Regions from separate parts of the Homo sapiens genome. Here region 2 is linked to region 1. Evidence: fine-mapped expression QTL. A gene starts in region 1. The other region holds a variant in brackets. All regions are shown on one strand. Distances are from middle to middle. Region 1 holds the start of SLC39A4 (solute carrier family 39 member 4). Region 2 overlaps ZC3H3 (zinc finger CCCH-type containing 3).

Region 1 (2,829 bases):
CCTGGGGTGGTGTGGGAGGGAAAGGGCCAGTTTGGGTCCGCAGCATCTTCAGGCTGTGTGTAGAGCAGCCCCCTCATGGTCCTGGGACCCAGAAATCATCTGCACCCCCAGCAGGCTCTGCACCCCCGGCAGGATCTGCACCCCCGGCAGGCTCCCCTAAGGGCCCCCAGAAGGATACCACTGCGGGTGGGCCCAGCCAGAGGAGCACCATGAGATCCGCTTGGTGGGGTGAGGCCGGCAGGGGAAGCACCCTGACCCCAGGACACTGGGCTCAATGCCCGCCCTGCCCCGTCCCACCCTGTGTATGGCGGGACAGAGTCCTTGGGCCTCAGGCACCCAGCTCCCCACCCCAGCCCCACCCACAATGCTCAGGGTCAGGCTGGCTGGACCGGGCGGGAGGTGGCATCTGGACTCCCCCTTCAGAAGGCAAAGCTGCCCTGAGATCTGCCTTCCCCTTCCCCCAGACTTCCTGCCATCACCACCACGGTAGAGATAAGGCCTCTAGGCTCAAAGGCCAGAGAGGGAGCCCACAGAGAGGGCAGGGCTGGGAGCCACAGCCTCCCTGCCCCCGGGGCTAGAGCTGGGGTCTTGCCCCAATCTTATCCTGACCCAAGCTCGGCCAGGTGGCTGCCAGGGCCCAGCTCCGTCTTCCTGTTTGTCTGTGTTGGAGCTTCCTGGGGCTGTCTCCGGCCTAAGGGAGCATGATGCAGCAGGCACCTTTTCAGTTTCTTTGACTCCATCGCAGTCCCCAACAGGGACCACAGCCCAGGACCCAGGAGGAGGGAGGTCCATGTCCCCACCCCCAACAGGGGCCACCGAGGGTGTCTGGGCAGCCTCTGTTGGGAGGGGCAGAGGCAGGGACCTGGGAGCTCTCAGGCTCTGGGGGCATCTGTGCACCTCTGCCCTGTGTCCCCCAGCTTGGAGGCAGCCCCCAGATGGACAGCCAGAAGGGGACACCCCAGCCCTGCCCCACAGCTTGGGGGGCAGCAGGCAGAGGACAGAAGCCCACCCAGGCTGGCCTGGCGTGGTGAGCCACGCCGGTAATCCCAGCACTTTGGGAGGCCAAGGCGGGCGAATCACCTGAGGTTGGGAGTTCAAGACCAGCCTGACCAACATGGAGAAACACTGTCTCTACTAAAAATACAAAAGTAACCGGGCGTGGTGGCGCTGCCTGTAATCCCAGCTACTCGGGAGGCTGAGGCAGGAGAAGCACTTGAACCCGGGAGGCGGAGGTTGCCGTGAGCCAAGATCACGCCATTGCACTCCAGCCTGGGCAGCAAGAGCAAAACTCCAACTCGAAAAAAAAAAGACCACCGAGGCTGCCTGTCCAGGGGAAGGGGCCCAGCCCTCGACCCCCACAGGCAGTGGCTCCAGGCTGTTGGGGAGGATCTGCCACTGGAATGGTTAACCCAGGCATCTCCAGCAGCCAATCACAGAGCTCTGCAGGAATACCTGGGAGAGGTCCTCATGCAGCCCGGGCGGGTCCTAGCCCAGCCCCAGTCTGGCCCTGGACAACCCCAGCAAAGCCGCCCTCAGCCAGCCCAGAAGCACTGGGCCTTGGCCACAGCAACACCCACTGAGCACGCTGGGAGCTGAGTATGGCGTCCCTGGTCTCGCTGGAGCTGGGGCTGCTTCTGGCTGTGCTGGTGGTGACGGCGACGGCGTCCCCGCCTGCTGGTCTGCTGAGCCTGCTCACCTCTGGCCAGGGCGCTCTGGATCAAGAGGCTCTGGGCGGCCTGTTAAATACGCTGGCGGACCGTGTGCACTGCGCCAACGGGCCGTGTGGAAAGGTAACAGCCCCACCCGACGGGTCCCCCAGCCCTGGCCTCTTCCCGCCAGCTCCGCCCTGCCAGCCGGCAGCAAAGGGCCCTGGGCAAACTCCAGGAGGCGGAGGAGGCTAGTGGCAGTACCTGGGCACCCTGACCCTCCCCACAGGCCAGAGCCCACCCTCCTGCTCATGAGGGCAGACAGGCCTTTCCAGGGACACAGTCCCTCTTCTCCCCAGGACCCCAGGGCCAACTCCCCCTGCCGGCCCTCTGCCATCAAATTGGCAGTGGCTCCAGGGGAGTCCCCTGGGGATGGGGGACCACTGTTGGGGACCCCTCTGCGTGCACCCCTGTAGTTGGGGAAGCAGGACAGGGGCCTGGGGAGACGGAAGGGCGCCAGGGGTTGAGAGAGGATGGTGGACGTTGTTGGACTTGAAAGGGAAACAGGCCCTCGGGGAAGCCCCTGGCCAGGCCTGCCTCTCCCCTCCCTGGTGGGCCCAGCGCCCCTGCTCACTTGTCTCTGCCCACAGTGCCTGTCTGTGGAGGACGCCCTGGGCCTGGGCGAGCCTGAGGGGTCAGGGCTGCCCCCGGGCCCGGTCCTGGAGGCCAGGTACGTCGCCCGCCTCAGTGCCGCCGCCGTCCTGTACCTCAGCAACCCCGAGGGCACCTGTGAGGACGCTCGGGCTGGCCTCTGGGCCTCTCATGCAGACCACCTCCTGGCCCTGCTCGAGAGCCCCAAGGCCCTGACCCCGGGCCTGAGCTGGCTGCTGCAGAGGATGCAGGCCCGGGCTGCCGGCCAGACCCCCAAGATGGTGAGGGAGAGTCCAGGCAGACCAGGGGAGTGGGTGAGGAGGGTCCCACGGCCCATGGGACCCGGCCTGGCTGCAAAGCCTTCGGGGAGCCTGGGGGCCTGGGGAGACGCCCAGGAGTCGGCCTGCGGCTGGGGATTCACAACGTGGGGCTCACTACTGGGCAGTTGGGAGCCTGTAGGAGCCCCGGGAGGGACCTCATGAGGGAGGAACCCAGAGGCCTGAGTGGGAGCCTGAAGCAGCTGGGCCCGGCA
Region 2 (2,892 bases), 950 kb after region 1:
GTAAATACGCAGACTCGTGTCCAGTCAGGTGGTCAGGGAGGCCTTTCTCATGAGCTGAAAACTGAGAGGGCCCAGAAGGGACAGAAGCAGCAAGAGCATCCTGAGGCCGCCATGCAGAGGCCTGGGCAGGAGTGGGAGGGGGCGTGAGGCATCGCAGGACCCTGTGCACAGCCAGCAGGGGGAGGAGATGGGTTGGGGGCAGGCGGGGTCTACCTGGCACCACTGCACCCACATTCAGAAAGCTCCCGGTAGTCACGATAGTAGTACTGACTGAGGTTGATAATTAAGTGGCCAAGACAGCAGCCATGGAGACCATGATGTCCTGACGTACGCGAGAGCCCCAGGCGGCCAGGATAGGCAGCAGAGGCTGCTCCTGGCAGTCAGTCTGCAGGCCCTGCCCTGCTCTGCGGAAGCTGGAGCCAGGGAGGGGATGCCTACTGCCCTTTCCAGAGCCAGAGCCCATCCCAGGGAGGACCCACCCACTCAGGGAGTGGCCCCCACTGCAGCAGCTGCATCCCACTCCCTGCACAGGGCCAAGGCTGGCCCCGCCTGTTCACCCAGGTCGCGGTGCGTCCTTGGGATTCTCCCTGCACCGTGCACCCGCGGGACCCACGGAGGGGCTTGTGGCATGGGTCCGTCTCCCCGCACCGGGGCCCTTGGGTCGTCTCAGCCCTCGCCGGGATCCTGTGGCCCACGTTTGTTGGGCTGGGTGGGCCTGTGTGGGGAGGTGCACCTGCCATCCCAGCTCTCCCATCCCTCAGTGTCCACAGAGACGCCTGTGGCAGGCAGCAGGTTTGCACTTGGCCCCCTCAGACACGGTGCCCACCACCCGGATGGCCCAGGGTCTGAGCTTTGGGGAGGAGGGAGTGCATAGCCCTGGCCCGCTCAGCAGTGGGGAGGAGAGGGAGGGGCTGCACACTCCTCCCTGGGAGGCTGTGGTGCTGCTGTGTCTCCCCGTCGGTGCCAAGTGCTGAGCTCCGCAGAATCTCGCCTTGCCATTTACACACATGGCAGAGCCCTGGCGGGCGCAGAGCCCCTGACGTCACCACACTGTGAACAGTCTATCCCGGCCACCCTTGCTGACTGGCCTCTGCCTCCGTTGGCCCTTCCCTTGGCCCAGAGCCATCAGAGAGCCAGTCTGGTTCCCCCAGCCCTTCTGGGGCATGTCTCACCCCTGCACCAGCAGCAACCCAGAACTCCTTCATTCAGCCTCAGCAACGCCAGCAAGGAGGGTCTGGCGCACAGAGGCTGGTGCCAGCCAGGGCAGGCAGGGGTCCAGGGGCCTCCTTGCTCCCACCCCTGCCCCTGGGGAGGCCCGCCTGCCATCGAGTAGGGCTATGGCCTCCGGTGTCCCGCTGGCCAGCCTTGGTGGCGACTGTGGCAGTCCTGGGGCTGTGCAGAGCCCAGTGAGGCCGCACTCGCCCTTTGGGTCGACAGGCGAGGCCACAGCTCCAGCTGCCTGGGCCACCACCGGCCCCGCCTCGCCATGAGGAAGGTAGATGGCTCCCAGCTGTGGGATACCGCTGACCAGCCCACTTAAGAGGAATAATAATTAAAGAAATAAATTTCCTCCCCTGGTGTCAGCAGAAATTTGACTTCAACAAGAAAGTGCAGCAGCCTTCTTGGA[A/G]GGGGTGGGGGTGGCTGTCCTGGCTGACCCCCTGGGCTCTGGGCCCCTGACGGCAGAGGACAGTATGGCTTCTACCCCCAGCTTCCCCAGTCCCTGAAGCCGAGCCCTCCCTCCTGGGCCCGCCTGCCACCTGAAGGCCTGAGCTCCAGGGTCCCTCCCCACAGAATCCTGTGTGGGCCCCCAGTGAGCATGGCCCATATGTGGCCACCATGAGCCTGATGGCTCCTGTGGTGGGGCAGAGGCCCCAGTCTCTGGCCACAGGGCTGGCCTTGGCTTGTTCTGTGTCCCCAAAGCCCCCAGCCACCTGTGGCCGTGGCCCTCCCTGCTGTGGGCCAGCTGCTGCGTGTTCCTGGCACGTCCGGCCTCTGCGCCTCCCCTGCTGGTCACCTGCCCACCCTCCCTGGGGTGACGAAGGCCCTGTCGGCTTGCCCCCGCCCCACACTGCCTCTTCTGGGGCACCCTCTGCCGCTGGCTGCCTTCTCCCAAGGGCACAGCCTCCATGTGCCAGACGGACGTGCCCTGGAGGGCCTGGTGGGCGCGCTGTGAGCAGACCAGGGCTTGGCGCAGCCCTGCCTAACTTCTTGGGAGAGTGCTGGCCTGGGAATTGGGGCTGCCTGCGTGCCCCGGTCATCGTGGATGTTGTCCCTTGGGCCAGGCAGCAGCTGTCCAGTGGGTGCTGGCCGGAGCAGGGCCTGGAGGTGCTGAGGAACCTCTGACTGCAAGGCCCCCACCCCGCTTGCCTTGCAGAGCCTGACATCCAGCGGTGCCCAGAGCTGGCACTGGGGCACCGAGCAGGGGGTGGGGCTGGTGGGAGCCGAGTCTATTCTGAGAAGATCCCGGGGAAGTGAAAGTTCTCTGGAATGCATGGCGCCTTCTGCTGTGGAGCTGCTGGGGGTTATTCAGTTGAACTTTTTAGCACTTCTCAGGCAGCCCTTGCTTCTTTTCCAGCCAGCTATTTTATGTGCATTTTTTAACACTGCAAAGCATTTGAAAAAGTGCCTCCTGTTCTTGTCAGAACTCCTGCCGTGAGCCTCACACTGGCATTTTTTTAAAGAGCACAAAGTGGAAAGGGAGGTAACCCCTCCTGCTGCACCCGGTCCTGCCAGGCGGGCACGTGATGCCAGTGTGTCCCTGCCTGGAGCAGATGGCGTCGCAGTGTCACTGGCAGCCTGGGCGAGAGACTGGGAACCAGCAGTGCCGACAGACCGCCGCATTGCCGCGTCCCTCACCCCACAGGCTGGCAGGTGTGAGGGCGTGCCCGTGCC

The links. PIP is the estimated chance that this variant, and not a neighbour inherited with it, causes the effect.
Region 2: its variant is fine-mapped to the expression of SLC39A4 in skeletal muscle (GTEx, PIP 0.98).

What each region holds. Positions count from the first base shown.
Region 1 is chr8:144,415,559-144,418,387 of GRCh38, reverse strand. SLC39A4 (solute carrier family 39 member 4) reads left to right here and starts at 1,544. Exons shown (of 12, transcript NM_130849.4): 1 at 1,544-1,790; 2 at 2,297-2,578. The coding sequence starts at 1,599. It overlaps LOC124902041 (a long non-coding RNA gene), which reads right to left. Exons shown (of 2, transcript XR_007061145.1): 2 at 1-2,829.
Region 2 is chr8:143,470,501-143,473,392 of GRCh38, reverse strand. The region is part of intron 5 of ZC3H3 (zinc finger CCCH-type containing 3); the gene reads left to right. Among named protein-coding and RNA genes, the nearest start is that of SNORD149, 34 kb to the left of the region's middle. RefSeq lists an enhancer at 2,115-2,816. The variant A/G (reference allele first, on the strand shown) is at 1,628.